3 separate regions of the Homo sapiens genome follow, and regions 1 and 3 are each linked to region 2. The links come from fine-mapping of genetic effects on gene expression. A gene starts in region 2. Each other region holds a variant in brackets. All regions are shown on one strand. Distances are between the middles of the regions. Region 1 overlaps LOC105376223 (a long non-coding RNA gene). Region 2 holds the start of RGS3 (regulator of G protein signaling 3). Region 3 overlaps RGS3 (regulator of G protein signaling 3).

Region 1 (8,181 bases), 220 kb after region 2:
CCCTTCCTTTCTTCATTCTTTCCCTGCCTTTAAGATATGGGAGGCTATAATGAACCTTGATGCCTGAGATAACACCTGAAAGCTCCCATGCTGGCCATGGGCCACCTGGGCTGGCATCCTGCTGAGACACCACACCTTTGACCACATAAACCATGTTCTGTGACCTCTCCCCATGCCCATCCCTGCTGACATGAACAGCCGGGCCCATACCTTGGGAAAGGAGGCAAACTGGAACATGGGAAGCAAAGTGAGACTGTGAGGGAAAAAGCTAGTTTACAAAAGTCCAGCTGACATCTTGGTGCTTGGGGAAGTTGTCTGCTTTCTTGATTAGACGTATGAAGGGGGTTCTTTTCCTCTGTGGACATCCTTGAGTGCTCTCATGTCCCTCAGTTCATTCCTCAGTTCACAGTATGGGGACTATGTTTGGTGTCTGGAATCTGCAAAGAGCTTGCAATCTCCAGGTGTGTTGCTCATGCAGTGGCCAGGCCAGCGGGAGAGGTGTTAAAGCACAGAGCAGGAGACTGGAGGATAAAGGAGGTGAAATCACCTACACGATGTCATCAGTTGGTGACATCACTTGGTGGAGCTAGGACTTGAAATCCAGGTCTCACTGTCCCCTCCCCCAATACCCAAGTTCTTCACTAAGGAGTGAATTGTCTTTAGGGGACTAGAAGCTCTTGATCAGTCAAGTAAGAACAAAGATTCCAGTTCCAAGAACCTCAGAAGGTTTGGGGGGCTATCAAATAAAATACCGTTTGTGACAGAATGTTGACAGCAGTCAAATGATGAGGGATGGTGTTCGCAGTAAAGCCACAGGTTCTATTCTAGGTGCTTTTCAAACATCACATTTTGCTGATAAGAAAACCGAGGCTCAGGGAGGTGAAGCCACTTACCCAGAGCCACTCACCTGGCAAAGGACCCTGGCCAGGGTCAGACTGAGACCTCCTTGGTCTGTGTTGAGAGCCGCGTTCTTTCTACTGCCACTCATGGCCTGCCCCACAGCACAGGACAGTCAAGTTGTGAGCAACTGCTATTCTTTAAAATAGTCTGGCCGGGCGCAGTGGATCACGCCTGTAATCCTAGCACTTTGGGAGGCCGAGGTGGGTGGATCACAAGGTCAGGAGATTGAGACCATCCTGGCTAACACAGTGAAACCCCGATTCTACTAAAAATACAAAAAAAAAAAAAAAAAAAATTAGCCAGGCGTGGTGGTGGTGCCTGTAGTCCCAGCTACTCGGGAGGCTGAGGCAGGAAAGAATGGCGTGAACCAGGGAGGTGGAGCTTGCAGTGAGCCAAGATCGTGCCACTGCACTCCAGCCTGGGCAACAGAACGAGACTCCGTCTCCAAAGAAAAAAAAAAAAAAGAAAGAAAAAGAAAATAGTCTATAAGTCGATCATTTGGGCATATGGACTGCCCTATCAGCCTGAAATGGGTGCTCTCGATCTCTATGACAGCCTCACATCCATCATTTTCTGGAATTTTCCACTTCTCCTTTCCCTTTTGTTCTTGCTTCCTGAAAACATAGAAACCTTATAATGAAATAAAACAACTGACTTCACCACAAACACAGCCCCTTCAACTGGCTTCTTTCTTTACTATTGTATCTTTGATTTTTAGACATTTCAGCAACCCCCAAATCATCTTAACATTTCCCCTAAACTGGAAAAATAAAAAATAAAACACTCCACTGGGGAAAGAAGGGAAATTGTATGTTCTTTTGTTTACACGAGTGTACAGAAAATCATTACAGACCTCCATGTGGCCTTGGTGATTTTCCATTGTGATATTGAAAGAGAAATGGATAAACTGGAGTTTGCAACCAATCTCGAGGGACTGCTTTTCTATTTGGGTGACCCCTGAAAGGCTTCTGAGCATATAGTTATTTTTGAAGGAAAAGAGGAAAGGCTGAGGGGTGGCCACCATTACCAAGAGTTCACCCAGATGCTAACTTATTCTGATGTTTGCTTATTTTTATTTTTATTTAATCTGATGTTTTGATGCAATTGTTCGTATTTTGTGTTTGACCTTAAACCATTATAATTCATCTTGGGCATGCCAAGAGAGGCAATTGACTATTAGTGACCAGGAAGCAGCCTATTTTCTTAAAATGTGACCCAGCCATGTTCATTGAATTGATGTAAAGCAAGGTTAATCTGAGGGAGAGGTGGGTGGCACTGCTTTGATCTTAACTCTCTTTGATCATAATTTACTTCTCTGCTGCTTGGAATAGAAACATGTTTCCTCTTGCCCAAGGTTTCCACCAAGAGGCCTTTACACTTAGGGAAGAACTTGAGCCAAGTCCTGACCCGTGGATTCTGGATGCAAAATGTACAGACTCAGAATGAAGAATTGCTATCCTAAATTCTGAGCTGCATGAATTCTAGGTATGGTAGATGGAGCACTGAATTGGGAGTTGGTTGATGTAATCCTCCCACACACTCTAGGAAGGAAGTTGTTCTTATGCCCATTTTACAGATGGAGGTACCGAGACATGGAGAGTTGAACTAACTTGCCCAACCCAGTAAGTTGAGGAGCCTTGGATTCAAGTTCAGGGAATCTCCCTTCTCCCTGCAGAGATTGGAACCTTAATGACCAAGCCTAGAGGCTCTCCAGATCTTCTGTGTGACCTTGGGCCAAACTCCTCTCCTCTCTGGGCCCTGTTTCCTCTTCTCTAAAATAAGGAGACTTGGCTGGATAATTTCCAGGCCACCCTTTCTGGCATTGACTACATACAAAATTTTGTGATGTTCCCAAAAGTCCAACAGGCAACCTGACTGTCATAGGTGATCCTGGTCAGATTTGATCTCCAGAGTCTGAAGAAAGAATTTAGCATGGATGGAGAGGAGTATTTAGCAAGTACCTGCTCTGTGTGCTACACGTTTCATGCATGTACTTCATGTTCATTCAATCGCCGCCACAATGTGATGAGGCCGGTCCTGTTATCCCCCTTTTACAGATGGGGAAACTGAAGATCAGAGTGAGGATGTGGCTTGTCCACATACCTGAGGAGTGGTGGATCCAGGATTAGCCTCCAGTACCCCATAGTACCCCCGTAAGAGCATCCCTCATCAGAGCATGCTTGGTAATCTCCTGTTTATCTAGCTGTGTCCAGTCTAGACCATGAGTTCTGAGTAGCAGGGACTGTATTTTAGGCTTTGTATCTCCAGGTGCCAGCACAAGGTCTGGCCCACAAGAGATGATCATTGAGCATTGTTGAATGAATCCATGAATGAACAGATGAATGAATGGAACACTCCAGAGCTCATGCCATCCCCTGCACTAACTGCACGGGATGGTCTCTGTGGGAAGAAAAAGAGGGGTGTGGGGAGACAGGCTCAGATGGAATCCTCAGTTATGTGACTAACGGCTTTGTCTCATTCAGTTCCTAGGCCCAGATGTCCACCCTCCTTCACGAGCTCAGAATTGAGCTCGTATCGCCAACATGTTTTGCGGAAATGCTCATATCAACACTTGGTGAACCAGGAAGACTGTACCCTCATTCCTTTCTCCTGCTGCCTGCTAGGTTGAGTTAGAAAGCTTACTCTCGAGTTTTACTGGCTTGCTTGTGCTTTTTGGCATTTTCAAAATTTTGTACAATGATCTTCAAAAAGCAAAAATACATTAATTTTTTTAAAGGTAGGATCCATATGAGATTGGATCTTCATCTTCTAACACTTTGGAGAACAGAAAAGTGGTATTTGGAGATATAATCTTCATAAGAATTGTGGCACTGAATAAAAGAGCACTGGAAGAGGAAAGAAACATAAAGGAAAGAAAGGAAAAGAAAAGACCAAAAGAAAAGCAAGGCTCCACTTGCAAATGAGAGAGCAACTTGGAAAACCTGCCACTCACTACCACTGATGCCCACAAGAGGGCGTCTCAGGGTCATCCGGAAGGCAAAACTCAAGTCCAAGATCCGCTTCCCAGCAGCTGGAAATGACCAATGAGTAGGTTCTGGAATATCAGCAATGACCCTGGCTCTCCAGCACTTTACAGTTTACATTAGACTCTCCTCCCCGACGTCATTTGCACCTCCCAAGGCCAGTTCTCCCGGTGGTTTCCAGCCCTGGGGCGTTTGTGGTTCTCTCTGCCTAGTGGGATGCAACTGGCATTTAGTGTTTGTCCGTATGTGGGTGTGGCTGGGGAGGGCAGAGAGGCAAACAGCCCCGCACAAGCTGTACAGTCCCCCTCATCAAGATGTGGCACTCCCTCTTTGCCAATAGCAACTCCTTTTTGAAACACTGGGCCTGAAGCAATCATCTTGAAGACATTTTTCATCAATCTTGTTGAAATCAACCTGGTTTTTCAAAATAGAGGAAGCACATCAATGAACAGACAGCCTTGCCCCATTTCTTCTGGGAAGAGTCACAGGAGGGCCTGCAGTGGGCAGGCAGGGACCGTGTCTTTTCTCTACCACACTGGGAAGGGAGGGAAGGGGGGCAACTTGGCTGAAACCCACAATGGGCACTTAGCATATGTTGTCACTTTTAGGGCCCACAACAACCTAGGAGGGAGATATCAATTATCCTCATTTTACAGATAGGAAGACAGAGGCTCAGAGACGTTCAGCCATCTGCCTGATGCCACCCAGCTTTTCAGAAACACATAGAATCAAG[A/AT]TTTTTTTTTTTTTGAGACTGAGTTTTGCTCTTGTTGCCCAGGCTGGAGTGCAATGGGGCGATCTCAGCTCGCTGCAACCTCCACCTCCTGGGTTCAAGCGATTCTCCTGCCTCAGCCTCCTGAGTAGCTGGGATTACAGGCGCCCACCACCACGCCCAGCTAATTTTTTTATTTTTAGTAGAGATGGGGTTTCACCATGTTGGCCAGGCTGGTCTCAAACTCCTGACCTCGTGTTCCGCCCACCTCGGCCTCCCAAAGTGCTGGGATTACAGGCGTGAGCCACCATGCCCAGCCAGAATCAAGATTTTTAACCCCAGAAAGGCCCAGGCTCCCCCAGCCCCACCACGGCTTCTATTGAGGCAGATACCAGCTTGGAGGTGGTTTTCCGAGAAGCCGTGAAAAACTGGGGTGGGCTGGGCTCAGGCTGTGACTCAGGGGGCCAAATTACCCCCTCCAGAATTCTAGCAGGCTGCGGGGAGGCCCATCTCTGGTTCAAATGTTCTGCGAGCTAGTGCATGAAATCTGTTCTTTTCCCCATTAATGCTTGCTGTACTTACACTTCTTACTATAATTACTCTGCAGTAATTAACAAGGGAAAATAACACATCTGGGTCTATACTTCGGCTCCAAACAGATGTACAAGATGCAGAGGCATGCAGAGGTCCTTTCACTTATTCGGCAAATCTGGATGGAGCATCTACTATGCACCAGCCTGCTGAACTGCAGGTGTCCCTCAGTGAGCCAGGGAGCACAGCCCCTGCTGGGCATGAAGGCGGAGTCTTTGGCAGGAGGAAGGGGAAGTGCCAAGGCCCTGGGGTAGGAATGGGTTTATCATGTTTTGAGAAGCTCCAAAGGCCAGTGTGACTGAAGCAGAATGTATGGTTAGTGCAGGTGGGAGACAGGTCAGGGAAGGGGTGGAAAAAGACCTTGGAGGGCTCTGGAAGGCACCAGAAAGCAGCTGGATGGAATGCAGTGGGAAGCCCACTGGAAGGGATGAGGCAGGGTCATGGTAGACTCTGATTTTGTCTATTTCAAAAGGGACTGGGGCTGCCCTTTATATCTGTGTGAATAATCTGTATGGGGGAGGACAAGAGAAGAAGCCAGGAGACCAGTTGGAGTGGGCATGGTAGAAGCAGAAAGGATGAATTTGGTGCATATTTTGGAGTTAATGTCCATGGGATTCACTGATGGATTGAATGTGGAGGTGGGAAATAGGAATGAAGGGACACTTGGTCAAGGTGTGACAGTGCTATAGCTGTGAGTCGCAGTCATCTGGAAATGCATTCATTCATTTATTCACTTATTTAGCAAAGACTGAAGGCCTGCTACATGCCAGGCCCTGTGCGAAGCACTGGGGATAGATCAGTGAGCGACAGCCACTGTGGTCCCTGCCCTCAGACACCACATGCAGAGTGCCAGACACGGCAGGAATGAAGCGGCAAACCGGGGGGAAGGAGGATGGAAGGTCCAGGGTCTCAAAGCTGCTAGGGTTGGGGTGGTGGGCAGGGAGGTTTCCCTGAGGAAGTGAGAGCTCCCCAGCTCCCCTGAGATCTGAACAATTGGTGGGGGAAAGGGAAAGGGTGTTCATGGAGGTATTGTGATGACCAGAGGAGGCAGCAGTGTTTTTTTATTTTTATTTTTATTTTTATATTTTTTTCTAGAGACAGGGTCCCACTCTGTCACCCAGGCTGGAGTGCAGTGGTGCCATCAGGGCTCACTGTTACCTCAAACTCCTGGGTTCAAGCAACCCTCCCACTTCACCCTCTTGAGTAGCCGGGACTACAGGCATGTACCACTGTGCCTGGCTATTTTTTTTTTCTTAAAAAAATTATTTTTCAGAGAGGGCGGTTCTTGCTATGTTGCCAAGGCTGTTCCTGAACTCCTGGTCTCAAGCTATTACAGGCATGTGCCCCATGACCAGCAGCACTGGTGTTTGAAGGGAGGCTCTAGTAGAGGCAGTGAGCGTTGTGACCTGCAAAGGAGGCTGGGGCTGTTCCACGTGGGCACAGAAGGCTCAGATACCTCCTCAGCAGTAGAAGCATCTCACAGCGGTGGAACAGGAGGACCAGCATTGATTTCCTGCATCTCAGATCCCTCTGCTTGCTGGGCAGAGACTGGATTGGAGATGACTATTGCAATAGAGAGAAGGGGACAGCCTGCAGATAGGCTTTGGGTTTCACACACAGGATTTGGTGATGGTTTGGCTGTCAGGAGGACAAGGAGAAAAGAGAGGGAGGAGTGGAGGGTGAGTCCTCTATTTCTTGCTTGAGCAACTGAGCAGTTGGAGAAACCATTTATTGAGGAAAGGAAGACTCAGGATTTTGGAGAAAAGATTAGGAACTCAAAATTTGATTGACATTTTGAGCAACAAACGAGAGTGAGGACAGAGAGAGATTCCTCAAGACTAAGGAGGGAGTCTGGGTCTGCAGATCCCATAGGTGCCTGGCTCCAGGTGGGACGGGCTGGAGTCAGCTTTTGTTTTGATTCTAGAAAAATAGTCATGCGGCGATATTTCTTGTATCTAGAGTTTCTGGAGTGAAGGTCACACCCACTGATATGGTTTGGCTGTGTCCCCACCCAAATCTCATCTTGTAGTTTCCATAATCCCCACATGTTGTGGGAGGGACCAGGTGGAGATGATTGAATCATGGAGGCTGTTTCCCCCATCCTGTTCTCGTGATAATAAGTTAGTTCTCATGAGATCTGATGGTTTCATAAGGAGCTTCCTCTTTCACTGGGCACTCAATTTTCTTCCTTCCTGCTGCCGGGTGAAGAAGGATGTGTTTGCTTCCCCTTCTGCCATGATTGTAAGTTTCCTGAGGCCTCCCCAGCCAGGCCAAACTGTGAGTCCATTGAACCTCTTTCCTTTATAAATTACCCGGTCTCGGGTATGTCTTTATTAGCAGCTTGAAAACAGACTAATACACCCACCATACACATATATATGCATAAAACACTCTGGGAGGCTCCAAACCACAACCTCTTTCTCTCTGGGCGCTGAGGGTGGAGGGTGATATTTTTCTCTTCCTTTTGTTCTTTTTGTGTTTTCTCATTCTAGATTAAACATGGATTATTTATTTTCCTGTCTCTTTCCTCTTTTCTGTCCTCATCCTTGCAAAGGAACCCAAAGTTCCAGCCATATGGGCCTGGAACTGGGGTGTCCAGGAGAAAAAAGGCCACCCTGACTCCATGGAGCACTCCTGTTGCACAGAATTCTGGGACCTGGTTTGACCAGACTTGGACAAGCCCCCACTCTGCCCCCAGCTAGGAGGGGTCCTTGAACATCTTTTCTTCAATTTGCAATTGCGTTGGAGGGCATTCCAGGTGGAGGATATGAGCAGGTTCGATACCTGCAGTCAGGAGACAGCATGGAAATTAGGGGACCTGCAGAGAAGGGATGTGGCAGGAGCAATGGATATGAGGGACAGGGCGAGTGCACTGAGGGAGACAGGAGCTAGATCCTGCAGGCTCTTCTGGGGCCCTGGACTCCCCTGAAGCAGTGGGGGGTGGTTGTTGTGGCTGTTCCCATATATAGAGGAGGGAATGAAGCATCCTGCGGCACA
Region 2 (8,181 bases):
GAGGCCGGGCTCAGTGGCTCACACCTGTAGTCCCAGCACTTTGGGAGGCTGAGGTGGGCAGATCACCTGAGGTCAGGAGTTTGAGACCAGCCTGGCTAACATGGTGAAACCACCTTTCTACTAAAAATACAAAAAATTAGCCGGGCATGGTAGTGTACACCTGTAATCTCAGCTACTCGGAAGGCTGAGGCAGGAGAATTGCTTGAACCTTGGGAGGCGGAGGTTGCAGTGAGCAGAGATCGCACCACTGCACTCCAGCCTGGGCAACAAGAGAGAAACTCTCTCAAAAAAAAAAAAAAAAATCACCTGTATATCTTGGCTTTCTCTTCCCTAAACTTGCTTATTTCTGGTTTTCTGTATACATTTTGCCAGAGGTCTATTTTACTGAACTTTTCAGAGACAAGGCTTTGGTCTTATTGTTGAAGTTTATTTTTTTGAGGATAAATTTCACCTTTAACCTTATTTCCTTTTAAAATTTTCTCCTGGCCAGGCGCAGTGGCTCATGCCTGTAATCCCAGCACTTTGGGAGGTTGAGATGGGCAGATCGCAAGGTCAGGAGATCGAGACCATCCTGGCTAACAGGTAAAACCCCGTCTCTACTAAAAATACAAAAAATTAGCCGGGCGTGTTGGCGGGTGCCTGTAGTCCCAGCTACTCGGGGGGTGCTGAGGCAGGAGAATGGCGTGAACCCAGGAGGTGGAGCTTTCAGTGAGCCGAGATTGCGCCACTGCACTCCAGCCTGAGTGACAGAGTGAGACTCCGTCTCCAAAAAAAAAAAAATTTTTTTTTCTTCTGAATTAGCTTATTCCTCTTCTAACTTTTTGAAATGAATTTTTAGTTAAAACACTTTAAATCTTTGTTATTTTCTAAATAAATTATCCCCTTGAACTTTCTACTCTAATTCCATCGATCTGTCTTTTCTTTTTAGTTTTATATTATTTAACACCATTTAACATCTGGTAGTACAAGTTCCCTTTGTTATTATTTTTCTAAGTTTTCTTGGTTATTATTGGGCTAGATGATATCTTAAAGTCACTAAGATTCTTTGAGAGTTATTGTGAAAATGCACCCAAATAAATCCATTTAGTCCCTTCTTTTCAAACTCAAGTATTCCTTATTATTCCAGATATAGTCAGTCTTTAAAAAAATGCCTAAAATCATTGCTCGATACTTTATTAAGTGCTTCAAATCAATCTGTATATATGCATATGGTATATATGTAGTGTATGTGTTTTGTGTGCATGTGTCAGTGTGATGTGTGCTTATATATATGCATAGGATGCATATATAATGTGTGGGGTGTGTTTGTATATGTATGTGAGGTGTGTATGTAGTGTGTTTATGTATGTGTATATGTGCATATGATGTGACTGTGTGTGTACATGGGATATGTTGAGGTATGTGTATGTATGTGTGCAGAGTGTATGATTGTTATCGTGTGTGGTATGATAATGTATGTGTGGAGTGTGTGTGCACATGTGTGAGGTGGAAGAACCCCAGGGGGTGCTAGAATGCTCAGGACATGTGAGAAAGCCAGGCTTGGTCCAACTCTCCTGCCTTCTTGGGGAAAGCAGGGCCATGATCATGAGCCTTTCTGGATGTTGCTTTTGGACAGCAGTGTGGGTTAATAGGGCCAGTCTCTCCTGAAGTGCCCTGCCCAAGCTCCCACTCACCTCTCTCCTCCATCTCTTGAGGAAAGGGTGACCGACCTGTCCTTTTAGGAAAAGGAAGCTTCCAGCACGCTACTGAGTAAAGGAGCCTTACTGGTGGTGGTGAAGGTGATACCATCAGAGGGGCCAGCTCAGGATCAGGCTGGCCTTGCAATCTTCCAACTGAATATGTTAGCTGCAGAGTGGGGCAGGAGTCAGGAGGGGACCTACAAAGCAGTAGAATCTTTGTTCCCATTACCGGGTGTAAGTGCCCAGTGTGGGCCTCGGTCTTTTCTCTCCTAGGTCACATTCAGACAGCACACCTTTGCCCAATTTTCTTTCTGGATCTCACCGTCCTGAGTGTTGTACCTGCAGGTTGCTCACAGCCTCTGGAGCCCAAGATAGTCTCCCCTTTGGGAGGAGGCTCTACAGTGGTCCCTGGCGAAGTTGTGAAGAGGTGACTATCATCTCAGGCACATCACCTTCCCTTTTCCCTGTGGGCCTTCCTTTGCTGTTTCCTGAACACCATGCTTTCTAGTTCCTACTGGGAGTGAACACACCTTGCATGGAGCATCTTCAGGCCATGGCTAACTCATGCTCCCATCTTGCTCCTGCAGGTCTGCCACGTCTCTGTGCTCAGTGTCCTCTCTACATCCTGTGGCTTGAGCCTGAGCTTGCCCATATTCCCTGGCTGGATGGAGTGGCTAAGCCCTGATATCGCTCTGCCCAGAAGAGATGAGTGGACTCAAACTTCTCCAGCCAGGAAGAGGATCACGCATGCCAAAGTCCAGGGTGCAGGTAAGTCCATCTGTCACTGGCTTGAGGCTAGGAGAGTGGACCTGCTCTTGTTAAAGGCAGTGTTCACCATGTGTGTGTGTAACCGGGGTTGGAGGGGGAGAGTGGGGTGGGGTGGGGGGGTGCAGTAAAGAGCAGGGCAGGACTTCACGAAGTGCCAGGATTCAAACAATCCTACGGCATTTATGTGATTTATCACCAGTTTGCTGATTCAGGGCTCCTTCTGCAGTTTCTGCTCCTCGCTGGTGGCCACCTGACCCTGTGGCGTTTGCTCCTTCCACCTGCTGTTGGCCATGGGGCAGATGTGGAGGCCAAGGAAGAATAGGACAATGGCGTTTGGGGCAGACAGGCCTGGGTTCAAATTTCAGCTCTGCCTATTCCTAGCTCTGCAAACCTTGGGCATGTCACCTGTCTTCTCTGCCTGAGGTTCAGATTTCTTCCTGGTAAATTGGGGCTAATACTTATTAGACTTACCGTGAAGATTAACTGAGATGATGTGTGTAAATTGCCCAGCTCAGCTCAGCCTCTGGCATCTGGTACTCAACACATAACTCTTCTCTCCACTTTCTGTCTTGCATCTCCCCATCTTGTTTTTGAGTGGATCACTGAACCACAAATATCCACTTGGCGATGAAGTCTGGGGAACAGGGACAAATACCAACACTTCCCATTTTTAGATTTACACGAGACTAACAGCTTTCCTTCCCACAGTGGCAACAGAGATTTGCAGAGCAGATGTCTTGGTGTGAAACTGCTACGAGGAGGTGTCCTGTAAATGTTTGCTGACAAAGCAGCAAAGCAGGGTTTGACCTTCCAGCTCTGCCTCCCCGCACCAGGCTGGGGGATTCACCCACCCCACTCCGTTTCCTGTGCGTTCCTCTTTCTCAGAGGCTGTGGGCCTGTCCTGCTGTCCGATGGCATCAGGCTGTGGGACGGGGGGCCATCAGGTTGGTTGGAGCAAGCTGCTCCCATCCGGACCTGTGTCAGGCAGCACTTGTTCAAGAGGAGGCTCAAGAGAGTGATCCAGGATGCAGGGTTTGGGAAGAGGATGCAGCATGGTGGGGGGCGACCTGTCCAAGCGCAGAGAACACTTTTCCAAACCTCACTGCCCTGGGCCATCGGGTGCTCCTTTGCCTTTGCTTGGATCTAATGATTATAGGCCTGAGCTTCAAAGCAGGTTATAAACCCGACTAATTGCTGGTCTAGGAGAGCTGGACGAGGAGGCCAAGCCTGCCCAGAGTGGGCACCCCGGACTGGGCCTTCTCGTGGGACTGGCATTTCCAACCGGGAGCGCGGTGCTGGGGCCGGGATACCCGGGGTGGCCGCACCGTCCTGCTGGCTCCTTGGGTGGCTGCCGTCGCTGCTCAGCGCGGGTCGGCGGCGCCGCCTCCCCCACCCCGGCCCAGCTCTGCTCCGGCAGGTGGAACTCTCCCCATTCAAACCCGCGCGGGCCAATCAGGGCCGGGCGCGCCCTGGCCGTTCCAACGCTTGGGGCAGCCCTACCTCCCGCTCGCGCTCCTCCCGCCCTGGAGACTCCGGTTACTGGGGAGCAACACAGCCGCCTCGGGTTGCAGACGCTCCTGTCCGGGTCGCAGTGGGACGCCATGGAGCGCTCCCTGCACCGCGTCTCCCTCGGGAGCCGGCGTGCCCACCCGGACTTGTCCTTCTACCTCACCACCTTTGGTAAGTGCCCGCTGGGGCTGGCGGCAGGGGCTGCTTCACCCTGCTCCCAGCGCCCAGAAACGCAGCCCCTCGTGGTGACAGGGGAGGCTGGGAGCAGGTGCTCTTTCTATCTAGGGGCACCTTCTCTGGCCCCTTTCTCCTGTGACTGCCCAGGAGGGGCTCAGGGCACAGGCTCAGTCCAAGCAAGCTGCTGGACACCACCTGCTGCCCGGCCATGAGTGCCAACTGCGGTTGGTTCTGCCTCACTTGGCTGGAATAATCACGCTCTGGTTAATCTTTCAGAGACCTGGGTTGTCACCACGGAGTTTCTCATTAGCAAGCAGCTCAGGTTAAATCAAGGTCTTGTTATAGCAACTGGAGATCTCATTCACCCACTTTCCTTTGGCTCAGGGAGCGGACAGGTGCTGGGCCCTTTGGCCCTGCTGCCTTGTGGGGAGGCTGCAATTTGACTTTGTTGGGTATCTGAGCCACAGTGGAGATGGGAGAATTCTCTCCTCCAAGAAAGAACAATCCCTTAGGAGGGTCCCAGGGCTGCCTCAGGGTTTGAGGTGGAAAGAAGTGAACAGTAGGCTTCACTCCCAAGCCCCTAAGTAGCAGACTGAGTTCCCCCAAATAACAGCTGGGCGGCAGCTGCCCAAAGGTCTGGGCAAACCTGGCCTTCCTGGTAGCCATAGTAAAGGTAACAACCCTACCCTTGAGGGTAACCCTTCATTTCCTCACTGGTCCTGCAACTCTCTGTGGAGAGGGGTTATTTTTCCTCTGTGAAGACTTGAAACCAAGAGATCTTCCATGAGCCAGTGGCAGAGTTCGTAGCTGAGCTCAAGCTTTCCAGAGATGACCTGTCCAGCGCATTTTTGTTTGAACTTGCATACAATTTCCTTCTAAAGGTTGGGGCTGTTACTGAAACATTACTGGACATTGCCCAGCTTTCAAAGACAGAGTGCCCAAGGAGTTTGGTCCCTCCCTGGGGTTCCTGGCTCTTCTGTTTTCAGGCTTACTCCTGCTCAACATATTTGGTTTTCCACAACCTGCTTTTTTTCCTTAGGGGTAGAGGGAATGATGGAAGAGCAGTGGCTTGGCCTCTGAAATTGCCTGACGTCTGGCAGCAGGAATTCACTGGTCTAGTTGGTGGACGATAAAGGGCAATTAACTAGCCATCATTTGTTGAGAACTTACCATTGCCATTCCTTATGCCAAGTGTTTTACCTGCATTATCTCACTTAATGCCCCAGCGTAGGAGGCAATTCCTGCTAACCCCATTGGGATGCAGGGCTCTGTGAGACAAGGGTGGTTTCCAGGATGATCTGTATTGGCTGGGGTAGGAGTGATCAGGAAAGGGTGTCAGGGAGCTGTGAGGCCCTCTTACCTTAGCTGTGTCCTGATTAAAAAGTAAAAATATGTTTGCTTTTTTCCTCCTTATTATCATGGTTACATGTGTTTACTGCTGAAAACTTAGTGAAAAGAAGAAAGTGAAAATCACTTGTAATCTGACTTCCCAGGGAGACCACTGTTAACTTTCTGATTTATATCCTCCCAGGCTTATTTCCACACCTATTTCTGTGTGTGTGTGTGTGTGTGTGTGTGTGTGTGTGTGTGTGTGCCTGTGTGTATTTAGGGGTCAAATTTCAACACAATTGAGATCAAGTTTGTATGGACAATTTTGTAACCCATATGTTTTCCTTAGTGGCCTGATGTGAATATTTCCTTGCATTGGTCCATGTTCTTCTATTAGATTAATCTGCCTGCCAGATCTGGGAAGCTGAGGAGGGTTCAGGCCCAGCAGGGAGTGGATCTTCCTGCCCAGCCATGGCCTCAGGGCTGAGTCTGATGGGTATCAGGGAAGGCTGCTGCTTGAACAAGTGACTGTGACCTGAGTGTGCAGGAGGCAGACAGGAGCCTGGGTGGGGTGGGAAGCCACCTGCTCTTATTCGTGCAGGCTCCTCTCACATCTCTCTAAGGATGCTTATGAGAGCATTTGAGAAATTCTCTCCTGTTTCCTGCACTGGCTCTGTTTCCCTGGGTGCCATTTGTCGTGGTGCCCCTCTTTCAGGCTGCTGATTTTCTTTATCCACTGTGATCTTCACTGATCTGCTTATGAGCAAAGATTCCTATCAGTGGTTTCCAAACCCAGCCAAATATCAGAAGCATGTGGGGAGCCTGTTAAAAATACACAGATTCCTAGAATCTTCTTCTGGAGACTCTAGTTTAATAGGTCTGGGGTGGAGCCTGAGAATATGAACACTTAAGAAGCCATAGAGCGTTCAGACTGTCATCCAGGTTTGGAAGCTATGGATTCAGAGTCAGTTTTGGTAGCAATTGGGACCACTTTTACTGTGAAGGTTTTGGCTAAGTTTTTCTCAGTTCACTGGCCTTTCCTTAGCAAAGTAGGTAGCCCCTGGCCTTCTACTGTGAGCTTTGCCTTGGTAGAACCAGATGAAGATGTTGCTTAGCTGGTAGTTTCCTGAGCACAGACATGTAAAGGGAGCATAATCATCTATGGAAATATAAAGAGACAAAACTGTTTTGATGAGAATTCCCTTCGGGGAGAGTACTGCATGATATATGTATTTGTGTGTACACATGAACACAACCCCTTGTCCCCCAAAAGGAGTATGTTCAAGTGACATTAATTGAAGGACACTGCGTTCTGAGGAGGTGGCCTTACTTCAGGGGAAGGGAGTAGGCAAGCTGAGGCTAGGACCCAACTACTCTAGAGGGATTTTTTTTTCTTTATTGTGAAAAATGATGTAATTTGAAGTCATTGTAGGTATACATAATATTTTTCTCCAGGATTGTATATTTTATTTTGATTAGGATATTTGCTGATTTTTCTTGTAACAGCTTTATTGAAATATAATTCAGATATATACAATTCACTCATTTAAACCATACAATTCAATGGTTTTTAGTATATTCACAGAGATGTGTAACTATTATCACAATTTCAGAACATTTTCATTCCCTCAAAAAGAGACATTATGCTCTTTAGCTTGTACCGTCCTCCCTTGTCCCGAGCCCAAAGCAATTGCTAATCTATTCTCTCCCTCTGTAGATTTGCCTGTTCTGGACATTTCATATAAATGGAATCGTATTTTTTTTTTTATGACTGACTTCTTTCACTTAGCATAATGTTTTCAAGTTTAATCCATGTTGTAGCAGATATCATACTCCATTCATTTTTATGGCTGAGTAGTATTCATTGTATGGCTATACCACATTTTAAAAATTTATTCATCTGGTGATGAATATTTTGGCTGTTTCTCCCTTTTGACTATTATGAATAATACTGCCATGAACATTTGTGAACAAGTTTTTGTGTGGACAAATGTTTTCATTTCTCTTCATATACACACAGTATATACCTAGGAGTAGATTTGCTGAGTCCTATGGTAACTCTGTGTTTAACTATTTAGGGAACTACCAAACTCTTTTCCAAAGTAGGTGTATCATTTTATGTTCCCATCAGCTGTGTATATGGGTTTTGGTTTTTCCACATTCCTTACCAACACTTGTTATTATCTGACTTTTTAATTCTAGCTATCCTAGTGGGTGTGAATTGATATTCACTATAGTTTCGATTTGCATTTTCCTGATGACCCGTGATGTTGAACATTTTTTCATGTGCTCATTATTTATATATCTTCTTTGGAGAAGAATGTATTCAGATCTTTTGTTCATTTTAAAATTGGGCTTTTTGTCTTGTTATTATTGAGTTGTAAGATTTCTTTATATATTCTAGATGCAAGCTCCTTAACCGATATATGATTTGCAAATATTTTCTCTCTATCTGTGGGTTTTTTTCACTTTCTTGATAGTGTTCATTGAATCCCAAACTTTTTTTGGGGATGGGGTCTTGTTTTGTTGCCCAGGCTGGAGTTCAGTGGCATGATCATGGCTCCTCTTTGACCATGCAGCCTCAACCTCCTGTGCTTAAGCGATCCTCCCACTTCAGCCTCCTGAGTAGCTGGTACTACAGATGTGCACCACCATGCCTGGCTAATTTTTCTTATGTAAAAAAAACTTTTTGTAGAGATGAGGTTTCCCTATGTTGCCC
Region 3 (8,181 bases), 120 kb after region 2:
ATAGAGAGGGTTCTATGTGTTGGAACTGGTCCTGGGCGAGGTTCTGGGCTGGATTTTAGTGCTGATTCTGTTGTATGACCTTGGCCTTATCACTTCCCTTCTCTGGGCCTCACGTAACAGACAGTCACCTTGCCTGTTACCTGACGCCACTCTCCAGAATTGTCTCGTCAGTCAGAAAGAAGTAAAAAGGCCTGGGCCTTACTCCTAGGGACTGTGATGCAGTAGGTCTTAGATTGGGTCCAGACAGGCATTTTTAAGATACTCCTCAGGTGATTCTAAAGTGTACTTCTCCGTTAAGAACCAATAGTCTAGGTCGGTGTTTTTCAAACTTTAATGTGCAAATGAATCTCCTGGGATCCTATTAAAGTGCAGGTTCCGATCCAGTGGGTGTGAATTGAGGTTTACGAATGTGTATTTTATGAGGTCAGGAGATCGAGACCATCCTGGCTAACATGGTGAAACCCCGTCTCTACTAAAAATACAAAAAATTAGCCGGGCGTGGTGGCAGGTGCCTGTAGTCCCAGCTACTTGGGGGGCTGAGGCAGGAGAATGGCGTGAACCCGGGAGGCGGAGCTTGCAATGAGCTGAGATCACGCCACTGCACTCCAGCCTGGGCGACAGAGCGAGACTCCATCTCAAAAAAAACAAAAACAAAAACAAAAAAATGAGTGTGTATTTTATATAAGCTCCTGGGTGATGCTGCTGCTGGCTCTTGGGCTGCACTTTGAGGCTAAGAGTCTAGATGGTCCTGTGAAGTTCACTGGATTGTTCTTTCTTTTTTTTTTTTTGAGACAGAGTCTTGCTCTGTCACCAGGCTGGAGTGCAGTGACGTGATCTTGGCTCACTGCAACCTCCGCCTCTGGGGTTCAAGCCATTCTCCTGCCTCAGCCTCCCGAGTAGCTAGGATTACAGGCGCCCACCACCACGTCCAGCTAATTTTTGTATTTTTGGTAGAGACGGGGTTTCACCATGTTGGCCAGTATGGTCTCGATCTCCTGACCTTGTGATCTGCCCTTCTTGGCCTCCCAAAGTGCTGGGATTACAGGCGTGAGCCACCGCACCCAGCGATTGTTCTTTCATTCATTTATTCATTCAAACACTTCAGGTGGGGAGTGGTCAGACGTGAGGCTACAGGGAGACAGAGCCCAGGGTCTTCCAGGGCTACAGAATTTGGACTTTATCTGAGAGGTATTGGGGAGCCAGCCACAGCAACGTTTTAAGCAGAGGAGTGACAAGTTGAGGTTTGCATGGAGGCAGCTCCCCTGACATAGCACAGAGAATGGCCAGTGGGGTCTGCACCGCCACTGTGAGCCCCACATCATCCTGGTGGGGGATGACAGTGGTCTAGAGGGAAGTGGCAGCAGTGGACATGGAGAGAGTAGAAACATTCTTTTTAAAAAAGATTAATCAACTTTTTAATTTTTTGATTTTTTACTTTTGAGACAGAGTCTCACTCTATTGCCCAGGCTGGAGTGCAGTGGTGCAATCTCGGCTCACTGCAACCTCCGCTTCCTGGATTCAAGCAATTCTCCTGCCTCAGACTCCCAAGTAGCTGGGATTACAGGTGCGCGCCATGTTGCCTGGCTAATTCTCGTATTTTTAGTAGAGACAGGGTTTTACCATATTGGCCAGGCTGGTCTCGAACTCCTGACCTGAGGTGATCCACCCGTCTTGACCTCCCAAAGTGCTGGGATTACAGGCTTGAGCCACCGTGCCTGGCCTCAACTTTTATTTTTTAGAAATTAGCTTTAGAAATTAGTGCAAAGTACAGAGAGTTCCAATATACTTTGTCCTACTTATTGCCAACCTCCCTAGTAAAAAGATCCTTGAAGTTGTATAAGTGATGATCAGGATTTGAGGATTGACCATGGGGGTGGTCACGAAGGAAAAGGAGAAAATGATGGCCAATTCCCTGGTTTGGGCAACTGGTGGTGGCTTCATTGATACAGGGACCATTAGAGGAGGAATGATGGACTTGCGGGGAGATCACACATTCAGTGTAGGGCTTGTAGAGTTGGGGGTACTGATGGGATATGCAGAAGGAGGTCTCCATCCATGTCCCTGGGATGCAGCCACACAGCTGTCCTCTGTGTCAGCAGCATGCTAAGGCTCTTCCTGGCCCGGGGCTTTGGCCTATGCTGCTTCCTCCCCTAGTGAGCCCCGCCCTGCCCCTTGAGCAGATTTCGGTCTCCAGCCATTCCACAGGGCGGCCTTCCCAACACTCCCCTGGACTCTCTCACAGCACCCGAGGGTTTTCCTTCACACTGCAGATCTTGGTTTCTGTTTATCCTGTGTTTATGGCAGTGATGACTTGGTCAATATCCCTCCTTCCTCTCTAGTTCGTAGGCTCCACAAGGACAAGGATCATGTCTTTCTTATTCCTTCCTTTATGCACAGAGCCTAGAACAGTGTCTGGATGCAGAACTATTCCATGAGGATTTGTTGAATACTTGCCTGTGGCATCTCAACTCAGGAAAGCGGTCAGGGCTGGCAGAGTGGACTGCGAGTCATCAGTGGCCAGATGGTGCAGATAGCGATTGTGGCCTGGGGAGTGGGTGGGTTCCCAAGGGAGTGGACAGGACTGTGATGAGAGGGGCCCTGCAGCAGGTCCTGATGGACAGGCAGACAGGCCCATGAGAGGGTGGAGAAGGGGTGAAATTCAGGGAGGGAGATGTTAAGGCCACGCTGTGCTGGAGTGACCATGGCTATCGTTTATTGAGTGCTCATGGGTGCCCTCATGGTGCTGAGCTCTGGATACTCATTAGCTCATTTATTCCTCTAACAACATTGTGAGGAGATTCTAGAAATCCTATGTTATGGCTAAGGAAACTGAGGCACAGAAAGGTTAAGCCAAAGGTCACCCAGCAAGTAAGTGTGAAGTTAGTATCTGGAGCTCCCCCTAATGTAAGTACCGCCTCCATCCTCCTGAATTTTGCCAAACCTGCTGTGTTGGAGACAGTGGAGGTAGAGGGGAGAGGAGTATGGCCTGGAGGGTCTCTGAGCTGGTGGCGGAGGAAGGACTGGGGGTGTCAGCCTCTGGGTGGTCAAGAGGCCAGACCTGGAGGAGCTGGGCTGACGCTGAGCCAGGAGAGCTAAGTGTTAGCTGAGCCATCAAGGTTCCTGGAAGCTAGCATTGAGTCAGGGACCTGAGGCTAGGGATCCAGAGCATGCCAAGCTTGAAGGAACAGCCCATCTTGAAAGCCTGGGGGTCCAAGGCAGGGCAGGAATTCTAACAGCCTCTCCCTTTCTCAAAGGACTTTACAGTTCACAGAGTGCCTTCCTGCCCTTTCTCACTTGGTCCCCTTAGGTCTCTGGCACAGGAAGCAGCAGGCATCCTCACCCACTTTCATGGCAGAGAAAACCAAGCTTGGAGTGGGGTAGCTTGGGATCACACAGCTAGCAAATGATGGAGTGAAGATTCCAGTCCAGGTCTTCTGGCTGCATGTCCAGTGCTCTGTCAGTAAAATCCTGGCTGTTAAGGGCCACCCTGAGACAGAGGCAAACCCCAGTTTACACCC[C/G]CCCAGTGCAGGAAGTGGTTTTCGAGGGCAGATGCAGAGCCCGGCATCCGTGGTGGCTGTGATGAATCATCGGAGTGAGAGCTGCAGGTTGTCCCTGGGTCAGCAAACCTGGCTGCTCAGTGAGTAGCTGTGTGATGTTGGACAAGTCACTTTCAGCAGCCCACCACTACCCTCAACCCAACATCCGGTGGGCATCTGGGGCCCAGGAGCCAAAGCTGGTATGAGTGTGAACTCTGGGTGTCATAGCTGCCATCCCTCCTTAGCCTATTCTGAGCTCTGGATTGGATTTGGGAGAGGATTTGATTAGGTCCTAAACAGTGACTCCATTTAGAGGGCCTGGTTCATTTCCTGTGTGCTTACAGCAGATGAGACATGGGCAGAATTAACCTGGTCCAGCCAAGCCAAAGAAGTGATGGATGGGAAAGACACAGACCCCCACCTTGGGAGGGTGGGGCAGTGGCTTCCAGCACTCTAGACCCAAGGCCCTGGGTGAGCAAGCTGGTCTTCCTGGGGCGCCCTGGCTGGATTCTTGTTACTTCAGCTGTTGCAACAGCTGTCTCACTGGGTCCCCAGCTGCCTGTACTTCCTCTATCAGAGCAGTCCCCATGCTCCTTCAAACTAGTTGTCTAACCTCTGTTTTTTCTACTTAACTGAGGGCAGAGATTGTGTCTGACTTGTTCCCTGCCGTCCTCCTAGTACCTACCTCAGTGCTTGGAGAATGCATGAATGTATGCGTGCCCCAGTCCTCCCTGCCATCCACACATCCTGCCCACATTCCCCAGAGCAGCTTTGACACAGCACAGCTCTGCCTGTGGCATTTCGTTGCTCACAGGGCAAATCCCATGCCCACCATGTGTTCTGCAACCTCCCCCTCATCTTTGCCTCCCCTCCTGCCCTAATTTTCTCCTACACTTGCCACCCTCCCACCCCTGGGTTTCTCGGGTTTCCTATAATTGCTCCGGAGCTCCCGTCAAACCACTTCCCACCCCAGCTCTCCCAAGAACAGGGGCCTTACCAAACCTGCACGCAGTCCCTGTTCATACAGACCTGCCTGGGAGCACAGAAAGAACCATGAGCTCTGGGCCCTGTTCGCCAGCATCTGCTGATGTGGGATGCACCCAGGTGCGGGGCCTCAGGCAGCACTCCAGGCTGTTCCTCCTCCTTCTACAGCCCTCTGAGGTCCCCAAACACTTGTGTGTAAGGCTCCAAGGAAACAGGGAGAGACCCTGGGCAGGAGATATGAGTTCTAATCCTGCATCAGCCTCTCATTCTTAGGTAATTCCTTTACCCTCTGGGACCCCAGGTTTCTTATCTCTAAAATAAGACCACTGATAGCTCCCATTGTATCAAAAGCTTTTCCAGGGCCAGGCACTGTGAGGAGACTCAAATAGTCCTGTGAGTCCAGTATGATATCACTGGGCTCAATTCCAGATGAGGAAACGGAGGCTCTGAGGTGTTGAGAGGCTTGGCCAGAGTTGCACAGCTAAAAAGTGGCCCCATTGGGATCAAAATCAGCCTGGCTCGGGTATCTGAGCACATAACCACTGGGCCCTCTGAGAACCCTTCCATCTTGGTTAGTTTCTCGGCTGATCTCTCTGGGTAGGTGCCCTCTGGGGGCAGTACCCCTGCCTGAGTGGCACTTCCCCTCCTGGCTTTGTTTGGTTTGGCCTCGATTTAGAACAGGGTTGGCAGAGGCAGGCTGACTTGCATTTCTGGTTTTGGGTTTGTTGCTGCACTTTCCCCAAGGGGTGGGCGGGCTCTGACTGACAGTCACCACTGGGACAGGCCTGGGCCCCACCCTCACCACCCAGGAAAGGGGAAATGCGGCCCGCTCCCCACTCAGTGCCACTCTGTGCCACTCCGTGCCAGGCCCTGAGGGCACCCGGTTGCTGCTTCCTTCCGTCTTTCCCCAAGGACTATCAGAGGCAGGTGGCTGGGCCAGGGGGTGGGTCGGGGGGAGGTCTGGCCATGTGGTAGGGTGATAGGACTGAGGGGCCCCAGGGAGCTGGCTGCAGGGCAGTTTGTTTCTCCTGATGGAGAATGCTCCCTGGTGGGTGGGGCGATGGGCTGGGGACTGGTTTGTTCATGGGGACAGAGATCAGAAGTGGGCTTGAGAAGAACAGGGCCAGAAGGCCTGGACTCTGGCCCCAGCCTAGCCCCTAATTTGTGCAGGGTGGCTTTGGGCAAGTCACTAAGTCACTGTCTAGACTGGGCCCTCAGCCTTCCTGTCTACCCAATGGAGGGTCTTTCTGTCCACCTGGGAACAGCCTGATAGGACTGAAGCACAGCCCTTAGTTTCCAGATGAGAATTCTGGACTGGAGGCCCTGACATTACAATTGCCAACACTGACTCTGGTGTTTGGCAAAATTTGGTGTATGTGGGAAACACGTGCCTCTGGTTGAGGTCCTTAACTTCAGAATTTCCCTCTAGATCAATGCTTTTTAAAGCACTAACTCCAACACCACCATCTTCTGTAGGAGCTTTCGAGCTTTCCAGCTTTTCCAGCATACGCTCCTGATCTGTTACTCAGGCATGCTGGTTATCCCATTTCATACGTGGACACCTTGAGGCCTAAAGGTTGGTGACTGGCTCTACCTGACACCTCTGTGTGATTCTAGGTTGCCCCTTGCTCCTCTCTGGGCCTCAGCCTTTCTGTCTATGCAGTGGGGATTTCGGATCGCTGTTGTTTCAGAGTCTGAGGCTATGAGGTCTGAGAGGGCCCTTGTGTGGAGTCACCTCTGAGCTGCAGGCAGGATTTCCAGGGCAAGAAGGCCACAGCATCAGCAGGCACCTGTCTTTGGCCTGTGAGCCATAGCCTAAGGCGTGCCCTTCCCGACCTTGGCCAGATCACGCTAGAGTCCTCCAAGGCCTCCCCTCCCTTGCCCAGCCACCTTCTCTGCTCTGCAGGGCTCCACTTTCACTTTCACACTCCCAGGCTGTGGCTCTTACCCGTGCCGAGCTTTCACATCCGCTCACATCTGTGCTCCCAGATGCCAGCGTGACCCCTGACACGTGTGTGCAGCAGCCTGCAGCTGCCCCAAGCCATGGCTGAACACTGACTCCCAGCTGTGGGGCTTCACCATTACAGACTCCCCAGGGCTTCAAAGACTTCTCAGCTTCGAGCATGGCTTTTGGCTGTCAGGGCAGCTGTACAATAGTGGGTAAGTCACCGGCCTTTGGGCTCAGTTTTCTCATCCATCAAATGGACATTAATGATTTCTACAATGAGAGCTCTTAACCCATGTTCTGGGGGTACTTACCCCTGAAGTTTTCTGCCAGTGTGCGCGTGTGCCCGCAGGTGCACACATTCCCAAGCATCTGTTCAGTTCCCGAGTATGGGTGAGGTCTTTCCCTTTCATTAGTTCTCAGCAGCTATGGCTTCTTGAAGACAGAACCTGGGCTCTAAATAAATAGTTCCAGCTCCGGCATTCCTGGTCCTTGACTGGGAGGGGCCCACCCCAGACTTGAGAACTGCCTCCCTGTGTGGTTGTGGCACCATGGACACTCCTGACTTTCTCGGGGCCCCAATCTTCTGGTGACATAGCTGCTATTCAGACTTTCATTAAGAGAAATGTTTTTCTCTTTGCACATGAAATCTACTGTCGAAACTCAGCAAAACCCCCTAGGATCCCGAGGGTTGTGTGTGAGGCAGGAGATGCTGTGTTTTTTGAGGAATCCCTGAGCTTCCTCCAAGCAGTTTAAAAATCCCTGGGTGGGTGATTCTTCAGGGAGGTTCCGTGTGTCTGCGACATCTGGTGAGTCCAGGTGTGGACAATATTTTAAAGTTCCGGTTTCATTCCAGTTTAATAGTTTCAAAAAGATACTTAAGCGTTCAGAGCACATTCTTGTTTGAATGACTCATTAGGATTTTTTAAACTTGAGTTCAGGTAGAAGACACCCTGGGCTGGGTTCAGTGACTGCCCTGGCTTGGTTCTGGTCCATAAGCAGAGACTGCCTGGTTCTCCTTTATCCCCAGAGGCAACTTTGACCCTGTTTCCTTTTCTGTAAAATGGGGACAGTGATGCTTCTTTTATAGGGTTGTCGGGAAGGCCACATAAGAGAGTGGGGTCAAGCTGGCCTGGCACCTGCCAAAGCAGGAGCTAGATAGATAGTGGTTATCTCTCCCTCTTCTCCTATAAATGACCAGCTGTGTTTTTGATGGAGCAGAAAGTTCAAGCAAGAAGACAGGGTGAGAATTGTTACCCAGCTAAGTCAAAGGGGCTTTGGGGGTTCCATCTGGCACCTCAGCTTTCAGACTGGGGGCCCGGGGTTCAGGCCACTGCCTGATTTCATGTCAGCTCATGCATGGTGTCTGGCATCTTGGAGCCTCCTCTTCTGAACTGTTCTTGTTTTCTTTTTGTTTCCCAGATGTTTGAGACGGAGGCAGATGAGAAGAGGGAGATGGCCTTGGAGGAAGGGAAGGGGCCTGGTGCCGAGGATTCCCCACCCAGCAAGGAGCCCTCTCCTGGCCAGGAGCTTCCTCCAGGACAAGACCTTCCACCCAACAAGGACTCCCCTTCTGGGCAGGAACCCGCTCCCAGCCAAGAACCACTGTCCAGCAAAGACTCAGCTACCTCTGAAGGATCCCCTCCAGGCCCAGATGCTCCGCCCAGCAAGGATGTGCCACCATGCCAGGAACCCCCTCCAGCCCAAGACCTCTCA

Evidence for each region. PIP is the estimated chance that this variant, and not a neighbour inherited with it, causes the effect.
Region 1: its variant is fine-mapped to the expression of RGS3 in whole blood (INTERVAL, PIP above 0.99).
Region 3: its variant is fine-mapped to the expression of RGS3 in whole blood (INTERVAL, PIP above 0.99).

The regions. Positions count from the first base shown.
Region 1 is chr9:113,678,523-113,686,703 of GRCh38, forward strand. It overlaps LOC105376223 (a long non-coding RNA gene), which reads left to right. Exons shown (of 3, transcript XR_930254.3): 3 at 3,384-7,695. Among named protein-coding and RNA genes, the nearest start is that of ZNF618, 190 kb to the right of the region's middle. The variant A/AT (reference allele first, on the strand shown) is at 4,618.
Region 2 is chr9:113,459,755-113,467,935 of GRCh38, forward strand. It overlaps RGS3 (regulator of G protein signaling 3), which reads left to right and starts at 3,973. Exons shown (of 23, transcript NM_001394167.1): 1 at 3,973-4,127. The coding sequence starts at 4,049. RefSeq lists enhancers at 2,876-3,830, 3,831-4,785.
Region 3 is chr9:113,575,563-113,583,743 of GRCh38, forward strand. It overlaps RGS3 (regulator of G protein signaling 3), which reads left to right. Exons shown (of 23, transcript NM_001394167.1): 18 at 7,888-8,181. Among named protein-coding and RNA genes, the nearest start is that of RGS3, 120 kb to the left of the region's middle. RefSeq lists enhancers at 3,559-3,648, 6,130-6,179, 6,340-6,509, 6,407-6,915. The variant C/G (reference allele first, on the strand shown) is at 3,519.